Linked DNA regions of Homo sapiens. The protein of the gene in region 2 purifies or fractionates together with the protein of the main gene of each other region. This does not show direct contact. Each region holds a gene or a part of one and is shown on either strand. Other genes may lie near its edges.

The links.
Region 1: the proteins of HNRNPM (region 2) and RALY fractionate together in Homo sapiens (co-fractionation; 2 studies listed by BioGRID). This does not show direct contact.
Region 3: the proteins of HNRNPM (region 2) and LRRC59 purify together in Homo sapiens (affinity purification with mass spectrometry; 2 studies listed by BioGRID, with this or other methods). This does not show direct contact.

The regions. Positions count from the first base shown.
Region 1 is NC_000020.11:33,996,911-34,003,910, reverse strand, and holds part of RALY (RNA-binding protein Raly), read right to left. Parts: intron 1-7,000. UniProt on the Homo sapiens protein: RNA-binding protein that acts as a transcriptional cofactor for cholesterol biosynthetic genes in the liver. Binds the lipid-responsive non-coding RNA LeXis and is required for LeXis-mediated effect on cholesterogenesis.
Region 2 is NC_000019.10:8,440,127-8,448,156, reverse strand, and holds the start of HNRNPM (heterogeneous nuclear ribonucleoprotein M), read right to left. Parts: upstream 3,183-8,030; 5' UTR 3,159-3,182; coding exon 3,046-3,158; intron 1-3,045. UniProt on the Homo sapiens protein: Pre-mRNA binding protein in vivo, binds avidly to poly(G) and poly(U) RNA homopolymers in vitro. Involved in splicing.
Region 3 is NC_000017.11:50,394,524-50,402,148, reverse strand, and holds the start of LRRC59 (leucine-rich repeat-containing protein 59), read left to right. Parts: upstream 1-4,625; 5' UTR 4,626-4,831; coding exon 4,832-4,936; intron 4,937-5,645; exon of another isoform or gene 5,646-5,742; intron 5,743-7,156; exon of another isoform or gene 7,157-7,160; coding exon 7,161-7,220; exon of another isoform or gene 7,221-7,225; intron 7,226-7,625.

The DNA.
Region 1 (7,000 bases), on a different chromosome or scaffold from region 2:
TCCCAGCACTTTGGGAGGCGGAGGCGGGCGGATCACGAGGTCAGGAGATCGAGACCATCCCGGCTAAAACGGTGAAACCCTGTCTCTACTAAAAATACAAAAAATTAGCCAGGCGTAGTGGCGGGCGCCTGTAGTCCCAGCTACTTGGGAGGCTGAGGCAGGAGAATGGCGTGAACCCGGGAGGCGGAGCTTGCAGTGAGCCGAGATCCCGCCACTGCACTCCAGCCTGGGCGACAGAGCGAGACTCCGTCTCAAAAAAAAAAAAAAAAAAAAAAACTGTTTGGCATATTTACCAAAGGTAAACATATGCCTAACCTAGGACTTACAGTATGAGGTTAGAGAACACTTACTCACTGTTCCCGCTGAACAGTTCACCTCCAGTCTTTTGCTCCATCATTGCCCCTGTCCAGATGCTTTCATCACACTTTTTCCCAATCCCAGAGACCAGCTGAGATCACTCTCCCTGCTCCCTACAAAGAGATCGATCTCCCCTCTTAAGGAAAATTCTGCCACTTACCTATTACCACTGACAAATGACTGATGGATTCTTCACATATAAATTGTCTCATGTGATTTTACAACGTTCTAATTTGCTCCTCACAATACCATTGTGAGGAAGGCAAGATATGGAGTGTTAACCCCACTTCACAGATGAGAAAATGGAACTTCAAAGAGAGAGAAGATGACATCTCCAGTTTACATGGCCTTATTATTCCAGACCCCACAGGCAATGCTAAATTGTTGGAAGAAATCGGGAGCACAACACAGCATCCCAAGTAATATTTCTCTCTGAAGGGTAGGAAAGAGGGAAGAGCCCTTCAAAACCAGGAGAGCCTCAATGTGCCCACCATTTCCATTTACTAGGGCTCCTTGCTGCAAAGTGTTCAAAGGCGGCTGGCAGTGGCAATGGGCTTCACGAACTACAATATAAACACAATTATCAAATCACAGACTGATCAAATGCCAGAAACCACACCTCAGATAATTCCACCTGCATACAAAATAGAGCTATTTTATTTCAAAATAGAGCATAATAAAACTTAAAATAATTCAACATGAAACTTAATTTTCTTCATTTCTACATAAGAAGCGAGACAATACCAAATCTTCCTGAAGCCAGCCAGAGAACTGTGTGGGTGTCCAGATGCAGATATCTGGACACCTAAACCTGAAAGGAAATGTTGTCCCCTACTCTAATATTCTTGACTTTACACACTGGGTGTTGGACACCTTAGCAACAGAGGATAAATATCTGTAAAAAACAGAAGGGAGAGAAGGGAATGCCAAAAAAATAAAGTCTACACACTGGAAGTCAGATTATCAAACTGGTCTCCTTGTCTACTGATACAGCCACCAATTATGTTATTTTCCGTTTGAACCCTCAATCCAAATATATGAGCCAGGGCGGCAGGCTGGATTTGCTTTACTTATCTGTCTTCCTCTCAAGACTGAAAGTAATTTGTGGACAGGAATTATGTCTTGTTGGTTTTTATGTTTTCCATAAGAAGAACATATAGGAGGTACTCCAAATTCCTGGAACGAATGGTTGAGATTAGGGATGGAAGGCTGTTGGGACTCCCAAGCATAAATAATCATGCCACGGCAACTAAGTAACTTCCTCTGAACCCTAATTTTAGTAAGGGTTGATTTTAATTGGTGTAAGAATCAATTAGGGTGAATCTTTAAAGTCTGAAGAGAAGTTATTCTTGTGCTCAACTGATTCACGCACAGCCCTCATTATTACTTTGGCAGCAGCACCATTCCTCAGTACCACCTTACAGGTATCCGCAAAAACAAAATTCCAAAGCCTTAAATTAATGCTTCAGGTAAAAAGGAAACGACGTGGTCAGGCGCGGCTGCTCACGCCTGTAATCCCAGCACTTTGAGAGGCCGAGGTGGGCAGATCACCAGGTCAGGAGATCGAGACCATCCTGGCGAACACTGTGAAACCCCGTCTCTACTAAAAATACAAAAAAATTAGCCGGGCGTGGTGGTGGGCACCTGCAGTCCCAGCTACTCAGGAGGCTGAGGCAGGAGAATGGCATGAACCCGGGAGGCAGAGCTTGCAGTGAGCGGAGATCATGCCACTGCACTCCAGCCTGAGCAACAGAGCGAGACTCCGTCTCAAAAAAAAAGGAAACAACATTCGATTTCTCAGTATAGTGTGGTCATATCTCTTACCAAAAAAACCCAAATCTAGATAAATGAAGTTATGGAAATGACCCTTTTAAATCTACTGCTGGGCTTGCTTTCACTAACACAAAGAATTTCAAAGGAAACTAGACAAATAGATCAAGAGACACCATGTAAGCAGTACCGTTAACTAAGCTTATTAAAATCCTTAATAAAATAAACAGGAGACAGCTAAATACCAGATAAATGCCTCTGGAATGAAGAAAATCTGGCCAATAACATTAAGCTTCCAAACCTGGCATTCTAAAAGAGAATATTTACTTGGAATAAAGCAATGAGTCTTACCTTGACAAATAACAGAGCTATTCAGTCTCTACAGATGGCACTTCAAGGGCCAGGTAACCTCAGTAGAGGCATCTACTCCATAAGCTAAAGCTCTTAGGAAATGCAAGTTTCTGGTCTAGTGTTTTTCCATTATTACCATTGTGTGAAAATCTTAAAATGTTTTTTATTTTTCCTTTATTATGTGATTTTAAACAGTTTGCTACATATTTTAATGTAATTTTTTTATAGTCTTGGACTCCAAGTTTGTCCCATGAGGCTACAGCTCCAAGTTTATAATGGAACTCAGCATACAATTTGATAAATTCATCTCACAAGCAATTTTTCAGCAATCTGTCCACTCTAAAAAGCAATATCCATCTGTTTATATACTGAAAGGTATCTTTTGTGAACCCAGAATTTAACCCTCTGAGATACTCTCAATACTTTAGCAAAGCCCTTTCTCCTTCCAGAGATAAATTCTCAAGCCACTTCCACAAAACTGTAAAAAGGTAGAAATATCACTCAAGATTATCTAGTCCAATTCCCTTGTTTCACAGACAGGAAGACAGAGATCCCACAGAATATTAGATAATTACAATTAACATGGGTTTGGCAAGCAACAAAAGCCCACTGACTGCTATTTTCCCCAGTCAAACTCATTGGTGTGTTGGGAAGATAGCCAGATTTGCACTTTAGTTAGTAGAGCACTCCCTAGGAAACTCAAGTATGTACCCTCTAAGAAACCCAAGTATTCAGCCACAACCCCCTACCCCAACCCCAGAATAGAGAACAGGGGGCAGTGGATGTCTTAAATGGCTCTTCTGGAGATGGAGACTAGAGCCCAGGGACAATATCCCATCTTTCCTTCCTTCCTCCCAGGAGGTACAGGACATTGATTACCATGAAAGCCATTATGAAATGACAGAAGACACTAACACTGAGGAAATAAGGCAAGGCTGTGGAAACAAAAGATGACCAACATTAATACTTGGCCAGATACCTGCTTCTACTTATTCGTTCGAAGAGAGGGGAGAAGTGAGAGAGACAGGGACCTCCAACCCTTTTTCTGTCCCTACCTCCCCACCCCCACTCTTTGGGCCTTTATAGAATTTCAGGGACCCCCCCAGATGATTTTATGAGGAAACAGGGCTATAAAAAGAAAGGACCTTAGTCCAGCCCACACACTGACCAAACGATGCTCAGGCTAGTGACAAGACTTCCTATTTATTCCACTGCACTCTGTCTCTATTCCTAAGGGTCTGTGAGCTGCACCCTGAGCACAATTTCCTTACAGTACCCAGGGGGAAGTTGTAGGACAAGCAGGTTAACATTACGGCTGTCATTTTCTCCCTTCCAGCTATATAGACATGAAGCCAAAATTGAATAAGACCAAGACACTCAAGTGAAAACCTTGCTATCTCCACCCCTACTATATCCCCTCACCAATGCCAAACTAAGAAGGGGGAGAAGAAGAAAGAAATACCTCTCCTAGAGATATATTATCTAAACCACCACCTAGAATCATAAAATGTAATTGCTAGAAGGGACCTTATGGGTCATCTAGTCATTATTCAGATGAATAAACCTAGACACGTGCCACCCGAGAAAAAGACTGGAGCACACAGTGGGGTCTCCTGACTCCTATCCCTAATAGAAACCCTTCCGGGTCCCTCTCCATCCTGTCCTACCCTGCCCTGCCCCATCCACCCTCTCCCCAGGCCACCGCTGTATCCAAGCTACTGAGACTTCTGCCCTTCTGGATCATGAGCTCCTTAGGATACGTTTTACTTATCTTTGTTTTCCCAGTGCCTAGCAGAGAGTAAGCAGAGAAGTGGCTTCGGCTTAGAGAGGGACTTAGGAATACACTAGTACACGAAAAGACCAGTGCCAAAGGATGTAGCCTGGATAAAATGTAAACTTTTCTTGGCTTAACGTAAGCAGTTTCCAGGCTGTGCCACACCCGGATGTCTAGGATTGAATATCTCCTCTCTTCCTAAACTAATGTTTGCATCATCCAGTTTAGCCAGGAACATGACCAGTTGTGCCATACTCTCACTCTCTCCCTTTCAGACCTGACACAAAGAACTAGAATCCATAACCAGAGGTAAGTGAAAGCATATGTAAGGAGACCCTGCATAAGAAACCCTACCCCCTCCCTTACGTGCTCCTTCTTCTCCTGTGTCCTCACCTCAATAAACAGCACCCATTTACAAAACTGCACCAGGTAGAAACCAGATGTCATCCCGATTCCTTCCTTACCCTCCACACCAATAATCTTTGTCTCATCACTCAATTCCACCTTTTTTCTTTCCTTTTTTTTTTTTTTTTTTGAGATGGAGTCTCACACCCAGGCTGGAGTGCAGTGGTTCGATCTCAGCTCACTGCAACCTCCACCTCCCAGGTTCAAGTGATTCTCCTGCCTTAGCCTCCCACATAGCTGGGATTACAGGTGCCTGCCACCACACCCGACTAATTTTTTTTTTATTTTTAGTAGAGACGGGGTTTCACCACGTTGGCCAGGCTAGTCTCAAACTCCTGACCTCAGGTGATCCACCCACCTCAGCCTCCCAAAGTGCTAGGACTACAAACGTGAGCCACCACGCCCAGCAATTCCATCTTTTTTCTGCACACACTCTTGCACACGCTCTCCCACAACCTTCATTTGAAACACCATCACCTCTTGCCAACCTCCTAACTGGTCTCTCTGCCCACAGTGTTCTAGCTCTCCAGTCCGCTCCTGAACAGGCAGCCAGAGATATCCTTCCAAAATGCACATTGAATCATGGCCCCCTCACCTCCGGATGAAGTCCAAACTCCTCAACACAGGCAAGAAGGCCCTTTCCTGACTTGGCCTCTGCTCTGCCTACCTTGAAAGTCTCCTGTCTGGCCATATCCACCCACCTCAAGCATTATGCTCCACCCAAGAATCCTGAGAAATTTGTTTAGCTCTCTTGGCCCGTTTCCTTCAACTACAGAATGGGAATAGTAACAGTACGTACTTTCGGGATGGTCTTAACCTATTATCACCATTTCTGAACTTACTGTTCCTTCTACCTAGAACAGTCTTATCTCTGCCTCTTCCCTGACTCCCCAGATCTCTTCTTTTCCTGGCTTATGTCTGTTCTCTTGAGGGCTAGGCTTAACCAACTTCTCCTCCTAAAAAGCCTTCCCTGACCTTCCAATGCTGGGTTAGGCATCATTTTTCTGTGCTCTCCTGGTGTCTGTCCCTGTGACAACACTTCTCACACTGCCTGTTTCCTTGCCTATCTTTCCCACTACGCTATACAAACCCAAATCCCTAAGCGTAGCACCAGGTCTAACAGAGGCTCATTAATTCTTCAGTGAATGAAAAACTTTCCAAAAATGAGGTATCCAAAGAAAGACAATCTCAACAAGTAACCAACTCAAATGTCAGCCAGGTGGCTGGTCTAAATGACTGTAAGGTCCCTCAACTACAAGATTCTATTCAATAAATTCAACACACTGACCTCATGGGTCATATTTGTTTGAACTTTAATATGCAGGCAATGTTGGGGCCATCAGATTTTTAAGGAGAGTGTGACATGACCAGACACATGATCATGTGTTTGTTACCCTATTAACCATCTCTGAGACACTGCCTCTCCCAACCCCCAGTTGTTATCAGGACAATATTCCAACCATCTTCATAAACATGAAGAGCCCACTCCCCTAAATGGACCAACACAGAAAACGGTCAAAGGGCATTTTGAAAGGCTATATGCAGCATCTAACTCCATCTTAACCAACTGCAAGCAGTGAGTATCCATAAACATCCTCCAAGAACCCAAAAGCTAATCCCTCCTGTGTGCCTCTATGGAAAAAGGGGGAAGAAAGAGGGAACATTTCATAAAGGTGATCTACTTAATCATTCTGAGTAGTTTTGATCCAAGCTGCTGTCACTGCACTGTTATTCCTGATAACTGCAGCCCAATATCCCCAAACCCTGGACTGTCAGAAGGGCAGGTGCAAACAAGGTGAGGGTGGGGAGTTATCTCGGTTCTATTTTAAGGGTGTAATAGCCTGGCGTGGTGGCTCATGCCTGTAATCCCAGCACTTTGGAAGGCCAAGACAGGAGGATCACCTGAGGTTCAGGAGTTCGAAGCCAGCCTGGCCAACGTGGTGAAACCCTATCTGTACTAAAAATACAAAAATTACCCAGGCGTGATGGTGCATGCCTGTAGTCCCAGCTACTCGGGAGGCTGAGGCAAGAGATCCCTTGAACCCAGGAGGTTGAGGTTGCAGGGAGCCAAGATCGTGCCACCGCAATCCAGCCTGGGCGACGGAGTGAGACTCCGTCTCCAAAAAAAACAGGGTATAAGGTCTCTTCTGCAGATACTGGGGGGCCAGCAGAGATTCAAAACAGGCTTCAGTGATACAGAACATCAACCTAAGGGGGAGAAAAGTAGGTCTTACTCAGAGAGGCCTGGGTTCCTGCCCTGGAGCTGCATGCCACATCTCTGCTGCAGGTGAGGACTAATAATTTTGCATTTACAATGCACTCTGAGACTAAAGAAGACACTAA
Region 2 (8,030 bases):
TTCTATTTTTCTCCTGTCTCTCAAAGGCTTTCAAGATAAAAATCCAAATTCACTGCCCATCAGCTGGCTGCCAGTGCTCCAACCTTAAAACTCTATAGCAACTTCAGTGTTCTTGTTTGTTTGTTTGTTTGAAGAAGGAGTATCGCTCTGTCGCCCAGGCTGGAGTGCAGTGGCCCAATCTCGGCTCACTGCAAGCTCTGCCTCCCAGGTTCACGCCATTCTCCTGCCTCAGCCTCCCCAGTGGCTGAGACTACAGGAGCCCGGCACCACGCCCGGCTAATTTTTTGTATTTTTAGTAGAGACGGGGTTTCACCGTGTTAGCCAGGATGGTCTCTATCTCCTGACCTCGTGATCTGCCCGCCTCGGCCTCCCAAAGTGCTGAGATTACAGGCGTGAGCCGCCGGGCCCAGCCTGTTTTGTTTTTTCTTTTTTTTGGTAGAGACAGGGTTTCACCATGTTGCCCAGGCTGGTCTTGAACTCCTGAGCTCAAATAGTCCTCTCACCTCAGCCTCCCAAAGTGCTGGGATTACAGGTGTGAGCCACTACACCCAGCACAACTTCAGTTCTCGATAAAGCATACACTCAAATCTCTGCTCTTTGGATACTCTCTTCCCTGCCCCTCCCCAACCATCTTCTTCTCCTCCACTTCCACACGTCTTCCTGTCATGGAGGAACAGGTCCCTGCCCCCAGCAGGTGGCGGAGGTCACCTCCTCCATTCTTTCTACCAAGCAACTCCACTAACTTCTATCACAGCATAATTACCTTATGTTATGGTAATTACATAACATACATAACATACAAATATGTTAATGGCCTCTCCACTCTGCATGGAGTGCAAAAGTATAGGCTTCTAAAGAGATTTCCTTAAGACTTGTAATGAAAAAAAAAAAAAAAAGTTTTCCACAGGCCCTATCAAAAATATCCAAGTGTTGCCAGCTTCCTAAACTATCCTCTATGAAGCTAGTACTAGACTTTGAGACTTTGAGCCTCTTTCTCACAACGGCTATTTTATTCTACAATTTTCAGGTTCCAACAGTCCACATGTATTTGTAAAATGACTCAGTCACAAAATGACTATTTGAAAATGGACAGGGGAAAAGGGAAAATTTGTAATCTATTAATTTACCCTATCATCTAGCAAGGTTCTACCAGCACTCCTTCCTGCATACGGTAAATAAATTTATCTTAAAGCCCTCCAAATACCACCCTCAGAAATCCTACCAGCTTCCGTAGATAGACGCTGAAAAAGTCAAAATTAACACATTCCTTCCCAGAGTTTTCAATAGTAAAATGCTGGGAATAGAGGAAGTTTTTCTCATTTCTAAGGGCCAGTAACCATGGTATTTTATTTCTCCCTACTTAAGGAGGGAAAGAATCTGGAATTTTCTCCGGATTTATTATCTACCAATATAGCTAGCACTTAGGGAACGTTCTTAACCTAAGCGCTCAACTAGGCAGGGCGCAGTAGCTCATGCCTGTAACTTCAGCACTTTGGAAGGCCTAGGCAGGAGGATGGCTTGAACCCAGGAGTTTCAGACCAGCCTGGGCAACACCCGGAGACCTCCTCTCTTCAAAAAATTAGCCGGGCATGGTGGTGCCGCGCCTGTGATCCCAGCTACTCAGGAGGCTGAGATGGAAGGATCGATTGAGCCCAGGAGTTCGAGGCTGCAGTGATCTGTGATCGTGCCACTGCATCCCAGCTTGGGTAACAGAGGGAGACCCTGTCTCAAAGAAAAAAATTAAATATATAAGTGCTCAACCGCATTCACTTTTAATCTCCATAAACTAAGCTTCACACATTACAATATGAGGAAGGCAAAGTCACAGACAGAAAGGAAAGAAAACGGAGGGAGTTAGTATTTAATAGCTACACTTTCTGTTTCCGATGATGAAAAAGTTCTGGACATGAAGCAGTGACGGTTACAGCACACTGAGTCAGTATACTCAATGCCACTGAATTATACGCTTAAAAAATGGTTAAAATGGCAAAGTCTACGTTATGTCTATTTTACCACAATGAAATAAATGTCTGGGAAATTCAATGTGTACCCAGGCTTCCCCTTCCTTCCCGGCCGCTGATCTTGGAGCCAAAACCTCTCTGTCTCTCTTAAGTGTCTGTAATCAGAATGAATGAGTTTCACCGGGGCACAAGTCGATGCTTCCTCCTTTAAAGAAACTTTTAAAAGCCAAGGAGTCAAAGAGCCCCAAGCAGGACTCGAAAAGCTGATGAAGTCTGGAAGTAAATGAACCCGCCTCCTGACAGAACAGCTTCCCCGAAACACGGGAAAAAGGGGATTCCTCCCCCGACTTCGTATCTGTCTGCTTCCGAGGGTGAACGCTAAGCAGCAGATCCCATCTCTCCACTAATACCTGCGGCGCACCCGGGGAGGAGGAGCGGGAAACGGCGAGGGACTTGAGCCAGGGCCAGAGCGTGGGGCGAGGGGCGGTTCCGAGGGAGGCACTTCCCGCGGAGCGCGGTCGGCGCGCGGGGACTAAGGGGCGGGGCAGGAGGGGAGCCCCCCGACCCGGCTTCGCGGCCCTTCCTGACGCTTCCCTCGCTCGGTTACCGTTGACTCGGGCTGACTGCGCGCGAGGCCTCCCGGGCGCGCACCCTCTCTCCTCCCCCCACGTTACGGATCAGAAAACAGACCCCGGGAGGAGAGGGGACGGGGGGCTGAAACCCGGCCCCCGAGGTCACCCTCCCGGGGAGCGGTCGGGTAGGCCTCGGAGGCTCTCCGGTCCGGGCCCGCGCCATCAACCCCCATGCGCAGCAGCTGGGCCTGAGGCCTCGACTACGGGGTTGGCCCCGGCCTGGAGGGACTGAGGGTGGCGAGGCTCGAGGCCCGGTGTAGGGGACGATTCTGGAGGCTCCCCCGGCTCCCCGCTCACGGCCCTAGACGCCGCTACCCTGAGCAGGCGGTACGGGAACAGCCGGGGCCGAGGCCGCGCCGGGGCTAGGCCGCCAACAGACCTAACGGAGCCGCCGCCCGCGTCGGCCGCGGAGAGGAACCCTTACCCGTGGCAAAGGACCGTGGGATACTCACCCCTTAGGGCCCGGAGCCCCGTTGCCGCTCGGCACGCCGGGCGCGCCGCTCTCTTCCTCCATTTTGATCTCCGTCGCCGCCACCTCCGCCGCCGCTTCGACCCCTGCCGCCATTTTCTCCGCGTCTGGGCTTTGTGTGAGCGAACGGGCTGCACCGCGCTGCGCCTGCGCGCCCACGTGACCCGACGCAACCAGTAACACCTGCGCCCGCCGCTCCCGGCTGCCTCCTTGGCCCCACTCGCCCCGGGCCACGCCCCCGCCGCGCGCAGGCGCAGACCGGCAGCTGTTGATCGCTTCTCTCTCGAGATACACTCGCGTTAGGCACCGACTGGCTGTTCCCGGCGCGCGTCCTCTGAGTCCGATAGAGGAGGCATCTCCCCACCCCACCCCACACAAACACCTAGACCTAGTCACTCTCAGCTTTCTGTAACCAGAGCTGGAGCAGAGGGGAAGCAATGATCCTGTCTAGAGATTCCTGGAAGTTTTAGATGAAGCTTGTTCAACCCGCGGTCCGGCACACGATTCGTAAACTTTCTTAAAACATTGTGTCTTTTTGTGTGATTTTTTTCTTTTTGTAACGCAATTGCGCGGTTCTCCAGCGCGAACTTTGTAGGCAACAACGGAACGGCATGGAATAATATCAGAGTATTATCCGTAATTCGCATTATAATTGCAAACAGTTCGTCCAGAAGAAACGGAAAACTGTTAAAATTCACTAATAATGGGGCCAGGCGCGATGGCTCACTCCTGTAATCCCAGCACTTTGGGTATGGGAGGCCGAGGCGGCGGATCACCTGAGGTCAGGAGTTCGAGACCAGACTGGCCAACATGGTGAAACCGCGTCTCTACTAAAAATAAAAAAATTAGCTGGACGTGGTGGCGGGCGCCTGTAATCCCAGCTACTCGGGAGGCTGAAGCAGGAGAATCGCTTGAACCCAGGAGCCGGAGGTTGCAGTGAGCCGAGATCACGCCACTGCACCGCAGCCTGGGAGATAGACTGAGACTCCATCTCAAAAAACAAAAAGATAAGTATTGAGTACTGGGCTTAATACCTGGGTGATGAAATAATCTGTACAACAAACCTCCATGACAAGTGTTTACCTATTTAACAAACCTTCACATTTACCCCCAAACCTAAAAGTTAAAAACAAAATTAAAAAAAAAATTAATGGCTGGGCGCGGCAGCTCACGCCTGTAATCCTACCACTTTGAGAGGCCAAGGCGGGTGGATCACGAGGTCAAGAGATCAGACCATCCTGGCCAACATGATGAAACCCTGTCTCTACTAAAAATACAAAAATTAGCCGGGTGTGGTGGCAGGCGCCCATAATCCCAGCTACTGGGGAGCCTGAGGCAGGAGAATCGCTTCAACCCAGGAGGAGGAGGTTGCAGTGAGCCAAGATCGGGCCACTGCACTCCAGCCTGGTCACAGAGTGAGACCCCATCTCAAAAAAATTAAAAATAATAATAAAGAGCGAGAGGACTCTTGCAATGTTGCATAAAGTGAACTGTGACAGAATTCAGGGTGTATTCTGTACTAGGCATAATGCTGTATGGTCTTATTTTTGTGTGCATTCGTGGCATCAGTTTTATGGTGCTGTGCAGCCTCCAATGTGCCATTTTCCAAGTGCAGACAGTCGAATTGGCACCATCAGATGTTACGTGTGCTTGTGGCAACTTGGGCAGTAAGATGCAGCGATTATCTTTTTGAGACGGAGTTTCGCTCTTGTTGCCCAGACTGGAGTGCAATGGCGCCATCTCGGCTCGCTGCAACCTCCGCCTCCTGGGTTCAAGCGATTCTCCTGTCTCAGCCTCCCGAGTAGCTGGGATTACAGGTGCATGCCACCACGCCCGGCTAACTTTTGTATTTTTAGTAGAGACAAGGTTTCATCATATTGGTCAGGCTGGTCTCGAACTCCTGACCTCGTGATCCGCCTGCCTCAGGCTCCCAAAGTGCTGCGATTGTAGGCGTAAACCACTGCGCCTGGCCTTCAATGCAGCGATTATCAATAATATATTTTTTTCTTTTTTTGGAGACAGTCTTGCTCTGTCACAGAGGCTGGAGTGCAGTGGCACCATCTCAGCTCACTGCAACCTCCGCCTCCTGATTTCAAGCGATTCTTCTGCATCAGCTTTCCAAGTATCTGGGATTACAGGTGCACACCACGACGCCTGGCTAAGTTTTGTATTTTTTAGTAGAGATGGGGTTTTGCCATGCTGGCCAAACTAGTCTCAAACTCCTGACCTCAGGTGATCTGCCCACCTCAGCCTCCCAAAGTGCTGGGATTACAGGTGTGAGTCACCGTGCCCAGCCTATCAATAATATTTCAATCTACCTTTGTAAATGATAGCTCACTGCAACCTTGAACTCCTGAACTCAAGCGATCCTCCCCTGCTTAGCCTGTCAAGTAGCTGGGACTGTAGGTGCACGCCGCTGCACTTGGCTAATTTTTTATTTTTATTTTTTGGTACAGATAGGGTCTTGCCGTTTTTCCCAGGATGGTCTCGAACTCCTGAGCTCAAGGGATCCTACAGCCTTGGCCTCCCACAGTGCTGGGATTATAAGCGTGAGCCACTGTGCTGGTCCTTAGAGGATTATTAAAGACAGGTTAACACCAAACTAAAACTCTTCTCTATGAAAGTATTAGAATAGATTTGCAAAGAAAACACTTTTCCTTCTCTCTCTCTCTGTTTCTTTCTCTTTTTGTAGAGACAGGGTCTTGCTATGTTGGCCAGGCTGGTCTCTAACTCCCAGCCTTCAAGCAATCCTCCTGCCTTGGCCTCCTAAAGTGCTGGGATTTCAGGCATGAGTCACCCCATCTCGTCTCTCTCTTCCTCATGGCATGTCCTGAGGCATCTGTACATCAACTCCTGGGGCACCACAGGCCAAAGTTGGCCTGAGGAAAGATGGGTGTCAGGCTGTGTAGGGAGTTCAGCTGCAGGAGCAAGGAAGGCCCCCCCAAGGGGCAGGAGAGCTCATGCGCACTGGTGTGATGCTCCGTTTTTGCAGACCACTGGTGCGTCAGTCACCCCATGCCTAGGAGGCCCTGCCCATCTCTCCAGCCACCTGCCCCTCAATCACACTGCTCCAGCCCTGGGGTTCCTCCCTGCTGCTCTTCCTACAGGCTAAGCAGTTTCCAGCCTCTGGGCCTTTGTGCTTAGCTGTTTCCTCCACTCCCATGGCCACACAGGCTTCTCCTTGCCCTTCCAGTCCAGGCAGAAAGTTTTTCTTCCTTTGTGAGTGAGCTACATACCAGGCAGGGATTCATATGGAAAACAGACCTTGAGCAATCAGCTCCTCCACTCTGAGGCTCAGTTTGCTTAACTGAAAATATGGATAATAAGAAATGCAATGCACCAGGCTGGGCACGGTGGCTCACGCCTGTAATCCTAGCAGTTTGAGAGGCCGAGTCAGGTGGATCATTTGAGGTCAGGAGTTCAATACCAGCCTGGCCAATATGGCGAAACCCCATCTGTACTAAAAATACAGAAATTAGCCAGGCATGATGGTTGGCGCCTGTAGTCCCAGCTACTCAGGAGGCTGAGACAGGATAATTGCTTGAACTCGGGAGGTGGAGGTTGCAGTGAGCAGAGATAGTGCCACTGCGCTCTAGCCTGGGCAACAGGGCGAGACTCCGTCGAAAGAAAGAAAGAAAAGAAAGAGAGAGAGAGAGAGAGAGAAAGAAAGAAAGGCACCAGAACTCACCTTTCAGGGTTGCCCTGAGCTTTAAAAGCAGACAGATGCCAAGAGCCTTTAAATATAAAAGAATCGGCAGGCAGAAAGCGCTGAAGAAGTAGGTGTTGTTATTAGATTAACTGCATTCTGGGCCAGGCTCGGTGGCTCACGCCTGTAATCCCAGCACTTTAGGGGGCCGAGGTAGGTGAATCACCTGAGGTCAGGAGTTCGAGACCAGCCTGGTCAACATGACAAGACTTCATCTCTACTAAAAATACAAAACTTAGCTGCCTGTGGTCCCAGCTACTTGGGAGGCTGAGGCAAGAGAGAATCACTTGAACCCGGGAGGCAGAGGTTGCAGTAAGCCAAGATCACCAAGATCACGCCACTGCTCTCCAACCTGGGTGATGGAGTAAGACTCTGTTTCAAAAAAAAAAAAAAAAAAAAAAAAAAACACGTATTCTGCATCTTTCCTGAGTCTTCCTCCAAAAGGAGTCCTGGTGTCACCCCGGCTCCACTTCCTACAGCTCTGAGACCTTAGATTAAGGCTTCCCTGCCCTGGGCCTCAGTCTTCTCACCTGTAAAATGTAGGTAATAACCACTTCTTCCCTAACAAGTGACAGTCAAAGGAGGGAGAGACTCGGAACTATGCCTAATCTATAGTCACCCTAAGTCAGCGTGGATATTGTCACCATTTTTAAAAAATTGTTTGTTTGCTTTAGAGACAGGGTCTTGCCCTGTTGCCTAGAATAGACAACAGAAGTATAATTATAGCTCACTGCAGCCTGGAACTCCTGGATTCAAGGGATCCTCCCACCTCAGCCTCCTGAGTAACTGTGACCACAGGTGCATGCCACCATGCCCAGCTAATATATATATATTTATATATTTATTTATTTAGTAAAGACAGGGTCTCACTATGTTGCCAAGGCTGGTCTCAAACTCCTAGGCTCAACTGATCCTCCTGCCGAAGCCTCCCAAAATGCTGGGATTACAGGCATCAGCCACCAGGCCTGGCCCATGCTGGACTCTCTACACTTAACTAAAAACTAACAGTGGCTAGGCGCAGTGGTGCATGCCTGTTGTCCCAGCTGCCAGGGAGGCTGAGACAGGATTGCCTGAGCCCAGGAGGTCGAGGCTGGAGTGAGCTGTGTGATTGTGCCTCTGCACTCCAATCTGGGTGACAGAGCAAGACCCCATCTCAAAAAAAGAAAAACAGAGGCCAGCATGGTCTGTGGACTGGCAGATGCAAAGTAAGAGGAAATTGTTCTTATGTCTATTTTATTTTTCTATTTTTTATTTTTTGAGAC
Region 3 (7,625 bases), on a different chromosome or scaffold from region 2:
GACAATCCTTTGTTCTGACATGGAGAGATATAATGTTACCGCTAGATCGGACACTAACCACAAATGAGAGAAGTGCCGCCATAACTGCAGCCCGAGAGTTTGGCGATATCTGGTATCTCAGTCAGGTCAATGATAGGATGACAACAGAGGAAAGAGAACGATTTCCCACAGGCCAGCAGGCAGTTCCCAGTGTAGACCCTCATTGGGATGCAGAATCACAACATAGAGATTGGTGCCACAGACATTTACTAACTGGCGTGCTAGATAGAAGGACTAAGGAAACTAGGAAGAAGCCTATGAATTATTCAGTGATGTCCACCATAACACAGGGAAAGGAAGAAAATCCTACTGCCTTTCTGGAGAGACTAAGGGAGGCATTGAGGAAGCATACCTCTCTGTCACCTGATTCTATTGAAGGCCAACTAATCTTGATAAGTTTATCACTCAGTCAGCTGCAGACATTAAAAAAAAAACTTCGGAAGTCCACCTTAGGCCCGGAGCAAAATTTAGAAACCCTATTGAACTTGGCAACTTCGGTTTTTTTATAATAGAGATAAGGAGGAACAGGCAGAACAGGACAAATGAGATAAGAAAAAGGCCACCGCTTTAGTCATGGTCCTCAGGCAAGCGGACCTTGGAGGCTCTGGAACATGGAAAGGCTGAGCAAATCGAATGCCTAATAGGGCTTGCTTCCAGTGCGGCCTGCAAGGACACTTTAAAAAAGATTGTCCAAGGCCGGGCGCGGTGGCTCACGCCTGTAATCCCAGCACTTTGGGAGGCCGAGGCGGGCAGATCACGAGGTCAGGAGATCGAGACCATCCTGGCTAACACGGTGAAACTCCATCTCTACTAAAAATACAAAAAATTAGCTGGGCGCGGTGGTGGGTGCCTGTAGTCCCAGCTACTCAGGAGGCTGAGGCAAGAGAATGGCGTGAACCCAGGAGGCGGAGCTTGCAGTGGGCCGAGATCACGCCACTGCACTCCAGCCTAGGCAAAAGAGTGAGACTCTGTCTCAAAAAAAAAAAAAAAAAAAAAAAAGATTGTCCAAATAGAAATAAGCCACCCCTTGTCGATGCCCCTTATGTCAAGGGAATCACTGGAAGGCCCACTGCCCCATGGGACGAAGGTCCTCTGAGTCAGAAGCCACTGACCAGATGATCCAGCAGCAGGACTGAGGGTGCCTGAGGCAAGCGCCAGCCCATGCCATCACCCTCACAGAGCCCTGGGTATGCTTGACCATTGAGGGCCAGGAGGTTAACTGTCTCCTGGAAACTGGCGTGGCCTTCTCAGTCTTACTCTCCTGTCCCGGACAACTGTCCTCCAGATCTGTCACTATCCGAGGGGTCCTAGGACAGCCAGTCACTAGATACTTCTCCCAGCCACTAAGGTGTGACTGGGGAACTTACTCTTTTCACATGCTTTTCTAATTATGCCTGAAAGCCCCACTCCCTTGTTAGGGAGAGACATTCTAGCAAAAGCAGGGGCCATTATACACTAGAATTAGGAGAAGGGAAAAGGGTAAATATATATACAGACTCAAAGTATGCTTACCTAGTCCTCCGTGCCCATGCAGCAATATGGAGAGAAAGTGAATTCCTAACTTCCAAGGGAACACCTATCAAACATCAGGAAGCCATCAGGAGATTATTATTGGCTGTATAGACACCTAAAGAGGTGGCAGTCTTACACTACCGGGGTCATCAGAAAGGAAAGGAAAGGAAAGAAGAAATAGAAGGGAACCGCCAAGTGGATATTGAAGCCAAAAGAGCCGCAAGGCGGGACCCTCCATTAGAAATGCTTATAGAAGAACCCCTAGTATGGGGTAATCCCCTCCAGGAAACCAAGCCCCAGTACTCAGCAGGAGAAATAGAATGGGGAACCTGACGAGGACATAGTTTCCTCCCCTCAGGATGACTAGCCACTGGAGAAGGAAAAATACTTTTGCCTGCAGCTAACCAATGGAAATTGCTTAAAACCCTTCACCAAACCTTTCACTTAGGCATTGATAGCACCCATCAGATGGCCAAATTATTATTTACTAGACAGGCCTTTTCAAAACTATCAAGTAGATAGTCAGGGCCTGTGAAGTGTGCCAAAGAAATAATCCCCTACACTACAGGCCATACATTTCAATCCCTGTATCTTTAACCTCCTTGTTAAGTTTGTCTGTTCCAGAATCGAAGCTGTAAAACTACAAATGGTTCTTTAAATGGAGCCCCAGATGCGGTCCATGACTAAGATCTACCGTGGACCCCTGGACCAGTCTGCTAGCCCATGCTGTGATGTTGGTGACATCAAAAGCAACCCTCCCGAGGAAATCTCAACTGCACAACCCCTACTATGCCCCAATTTAGCAGGAAGCAGTTAGAGCGGTCATCGGCCAACCTCCCCAACAGCACTTGGGTTTTCCTGTTGAGGGGGGCACTGAGAGACAGGACTAGCTGGATTTCCTAAGCCAACTAAGAATCCCTAAGCCTAGCTGGGAAGGTGACCGCATCCACCTTTAAACATGGGGCTTGCAACTTAGCTCGCACCTGATCAATCAGGTAGTAAAGAGAGCTCACTGAAATGCTAATTAAGCAAAAACAGGAGGTAAAGAAATAGCCAATCATCTATCGCCTGAGAGCACAGGAGGAGGGACAATGATCGGGATATAAACCCAGGCATTCGAGCCGGCAACAGCAACCCCCTTTGGGTCCCCTGCCATTTTATGGGAGCTCTGTTTTCACTCTATTAAATCTTGCAACTGCACACTTTTCTGGTCCGTGTTTGTTACGGCTTGAGCTGAGCTTTTCCTTACCGTCCACTACTGCTGTTTGCTGCTGTCGCAGACCCGCTGCTGACTTCCACCCCTCTGGATCTGGCAGGGTGTCTGCTGGGCTCCCGATCCAGTGAGGCGCCCATTGCTGCTCTGGATCAGGCTAAAGGCTTGCCATTGTTCCTGCGTGGCTAAGTGCCTGGATTTGTCCTAATTGAGCTGAATAGAGCTATAACACTCATTGCATGGCCCAAGATTCCATTCCTTGGAATGCGTGAGGCCAAGAAACCCAGGTCAGAGAACAAGAGGCTTGCCGCCATCTTGGAAGTGGCCCGCCACCATCTTGGGAGTTCTAAGAACAAGGACCCCTGCCACCCACCCCCCGTAACAATTGCACTTACTTTATTTGGTGTTCATAGTTTCCCTCTGAGACAAGATTTTTTATTTTTTATTTTTTTAGAGATGGGGTCTTGCTATGTTGCCCAGACTGGTTTTGAACTCCTAGCCTCAAATAATCCTCTCATCTTGGCCTCCCAAGTATTGGGATTACAGGTGTGAGCTATCCTGCTCGGCCCCTCTGAGATAAGCTTTAATATCCCTATTTCAAAATGAGTAAACTGAGGTTTGGAGTGGGTAAAGTGCTTCCTTCCTTCATTCATTCATTCATTCATCCATCCATCTATTCATTTATTCAACAGACATCTGAATGAGTAGCTACCCTGCATCAGGGTATGCCAACTCTGGGCATACGAAGATGATTAAGACAAAAATCCCTGTCCTCACAGTCCAGAATGAAGGACAGACACATAAAGATGAGTATAATACAAGGTGGATCATGAATTGTAGCTAATATTTATTGGGTACTTACTAAGTGCCAGTGACTGCTGTAAGCTCTTGGTGTGTTTTACTCCTTCAGTTCTCCCCAACCTCTGTTAGCTACATGTCTCATAGATTGATTCATAGATAAGACTGAAGCCTGGTGATTGTCTACGGTTTTATAAGTAGCAAGTGGCAGAGCCAGGATGAATACCCAGTGGATAGGTATTAGTGCCAGAGGTCCCACTTGGCCATCAAGCTCTACTGTCTCTGATGATAAAGTAGCAAACAGGGACCTAAGTTGGTTGGGGGGGGCGCTAACTCAGTCTGGCATTCACGGTGTTCAGGGGAGATTTCCTGAAGGACTAAGGAATTAGCTAGACAGAGGTGAGTGGGGGGGAGGGAGGGCCATCGCTGGGGAGGGCCAGACGTGGGAGCCACCTCCTGGAAATCTACACAGCATCTAGGCCAGGCAGGGACTGGAGCGTGTGAGGAAGCTGCGAAAGCAGGCAGGACCCAGCTTCCAAAGGAAAGTGGTCCGTATCCTAGAGGTAGCTGCAAGTTTGAAGGGTTTTACGTAGGGGAGAGACTTGGCCAGATTTTTAGAAAGATCACCGGGGAGCTGGGTGAAAGTGGATGGAAGGACAGAGACAAGCACTGAGGCAGTGAGTGGGGAGGAGAGAGGAGAAATTCAGGAAGAAGAGTTTTCCCCATGATGGTTATTCGGGGGTTAAGTAGAGGACAGGGAGCAGTTTTAGAGGACACCCAGCTTCTGCTCCTAATCAGGGGGATTGGGGTGATCTGATGAGGTCAGTATTGGATGTCAACCCAGTCTTCTGGCGCCCAGTCCGTGCCCTTTCGCCTCGTGGCACTGCCAGCAATAATGCCCGCGGGCCACGGGTGAACGTGAACCGAGCTCGCAGCCTCCAACCCCACCCCTCCGGCGGCGGCGACGTGCAGTGCATCACCCTGGGCACCAGGGGGCGTGCCCGCACACGCTCGGGCCGCTCTGGCCCAGCCCATCTCAGTGGTCGCGGAAGGTGACGTGGACACGGAAGTGGTCGTCGTCGCGGCACCGGTGGGAGCTAGGCGCGAGGCTCGGAGTGCGGCCAGCGGGCGGAGGCGGTCTCGCATCGGCGGCGACGGAGGGCTCAGGCGTCGTCGTTTGGGTGGGGGGCCGCTGAACTGACAAGCGACATTTCAGCTCCTTTCACCCGCCGGAACCCCGGAGCCGGGGCCCGCTCAGCCGGCGTTACCATGACCAAGGCCGGTAGCAAGGGCGGGAACCTCCGCGACAAGCTGGACGGCAACGAACTGGACCTGAGCCTCAGCGACCTGAATGAGGTCCCGGTGAAGGAGCTGGTCAGTATCGTCCCGCGAGGCCCAGGCGCCCACCTTCGCCGGGCGCTGGCCCCTACGTGGGCCACTTACTTTCCTCTTCTCTAAAAGCATCAGTTTCCTTTTCTTTAAAAAGAAGCGGGGTGGTGGGACTAAGTCCCCTAGGAGGCCGCGTCCAGCCCAAGGTTCTTCCCGGGATGTACACGTGTCACTTTGGCGCAGTTCCAGAACATAGGGAAGATCTGCTTCTCTGGCCCTAGGCTTTTTACAGGCTAAGAAGCGAATCTGTCACCTTTGCGGGGCTTTCACAGCGCCCACCTCCGTGCCCGACTCTGAGTAGGAGCACACGGAGCAGTTACTGGATGTATTCGAGAATGAATGAGTGACTTGTTCCAGGGGAGTAGGCCTCCTGGTAGACCTGGGTGTGGCCCAGAACCTGGCTCTTCTAGGAAGCTGGCAATTCCAGCTGGCTGCCCGAGCCCTGAGGCAGCCTAACTCGAAGAAAGTAAAGTCTCCCCCCAGCTTGGCTGGTAAACTGTCATCTGAATTCCGCTGAAACTGGCGGGAGTCCCTTTCGCCCCTCTCTCCCCCAACCTTTCCCCTGTAAACTGAAGCTTACAGCTCCAGAGAGATAGCAGGCATCTAGTTTTGTCAGCGTGGAGCTAGTTCCCACATCCCTCCTTTTCCCACTCCGTTCCCCCTCCCACCCGCGCCAACGCCCTACTAGACTCACTTTGGGTGACCCACACTTTGCTTTCTGCCGTTGATAAATTACATTTGCCTTGGGCGCTGGGCCCAGTCTTTCTTCCACCGTGGACGGGTATTACAGTGGTTAGAACCGGGTTCCTAGCTCCTCCCAGCTCCATTGCTTAATAGCCGAGTGCCCTTGGCAAGCTAGTTAGCCTTTATGCCTAGATCTCCTCATCTATACAATGGTGATAATAGTTTCCATCTCATACGCTTATTGGGAGGTTAAATACCATTGTAATGGAAAATGCTTGGAAGGAGCAAATACTGATACTTGTAGCTGTTGTTGTGTTTTTCCCGCTGTAGTATTTAAAACTTTTTTAGGTGGTCAAACTTCACTTTTACGACTTTGTGACAGAAAGTGCAGGTTGCCAGAGGATCCTTAACTGAATATATGCCTCCTTTTCTACCCCAGGAAGATAGATGGCCAGCCTTATTTCACCCTGCCCTAGGACTGCTCTCTGAAACCATATACTCCAGGCATCTGAACAGTCCAGCATTAACCTTAGGGAGAAAGTTTTGCTGAGCTTGTCCAGCCTGGACACCATGGGAAAATAGAGATGGGCTGTGAGGGCCTTTTTTTTTTTTGGATGATGGAGTTTTGCTGTTGTTGCCCAGGAGTGATCTCGGCTCACTGAAACCTCTGCCTCCCGGGTTCAAGCGATTCTCCTGCCTCAGCCTCCCGAGTAGCTGGGATTACAAGCGTGTGCCACCATGCCTGGCTAATTTTCTATTTTTAGTAGAGACAGGGTTTCTCCGTGTTGGTCAGGCTGGTCTCGAACTCCTGACTTCAGGTGATTGCCTGCCTCAGCCTCCCAAAGTGGTGGGATTACAGGCGTGAGCCACCGCACCCGGCAGGGCCTTGTTTTTTCACTCTGTCATTCACTCCGCTACTTACTCGATCAGTCATGATTCAGGCAACATGTATGGATATTGAGTACCTGTTCTGAGGAAGGGCCTGAACTGGGGAATATGGAAATTGCAAAGCTTTATTAGACACTGTCCCTGCCCTGAAACCTAATAAGAGGGACGCTGGGTAATATTTATTTTTAAAGTGCTAGGAATAATGTCTAAGAATCTAAATTTTGCTTGCCTGCCTGCCTGCCTGCCTTCCTTTCTTTTTTTTTTTTTTTGAGATGGGGTCTCACTGTGTTGTGCAGGCCGGCCTCAAACTCCTGAACTCCTGGGCTCAAGCGATCCTCCTGTCTCAGCTTTCTGAGTAGCTGAGACTATGAGACTACAGGTGTGAGTCCCTGTGCCTCGCCTAAGGTTTACCTTCTTGGAGGTTGTACAGCCACATCCCTTCTCTTTGCATTCTTCCTTAGATCATGGTTGACTGGCTTATTTTTCCTCTTATTCCCAGGAACATTACTCTTTACTGCCATTTTAAAAGGCCTTTCCTAATCATGGGAACATTCTCTGGAAAATGCTTCATTAACATATGTCAGTGAATTGTTCCAGATGTTGGTCTGACATGTTTTTCTCATCCTCTTTTACCTAGGCTGCCCTTCCAAAGGCCACCATCCTGGATCTGTCTTGTAATAAACTGACTACTCTACCGGTAAGATTGGCATGCAGCCGTGACTCCTTCTGGTGCCTTGGATGCATCTCCTTCCTGTTTCGGGGGTTGAGAGGGGGGTGGGAGGGTGTCATAAGGTGTAATTTCAGGATAGGCCTACAGGCAGGCTATAGCTAAATCTGAGTGTGTAGGGGAGGCACAGTGGAATGGAGTGGTTGGTCTCAGTGGGAAAGGAATTGAGATGGAGGCCTCATTCTTCAGAACAGTGGTAAAGTCAGTCCACAGAAAACTAAACTCAACAGGGTGCTGAGTAACTTACTGGGCTCATCTTTTTTCTACATTATTTTATTCCTCTGAAAAATAGTTTACCTCCCTACTGCATAGAGGATGCTAGAGACCATTTTGTAAGTTGCTCTGCGTTCCAGGGAGAAAGCTGTGAACAGCTTC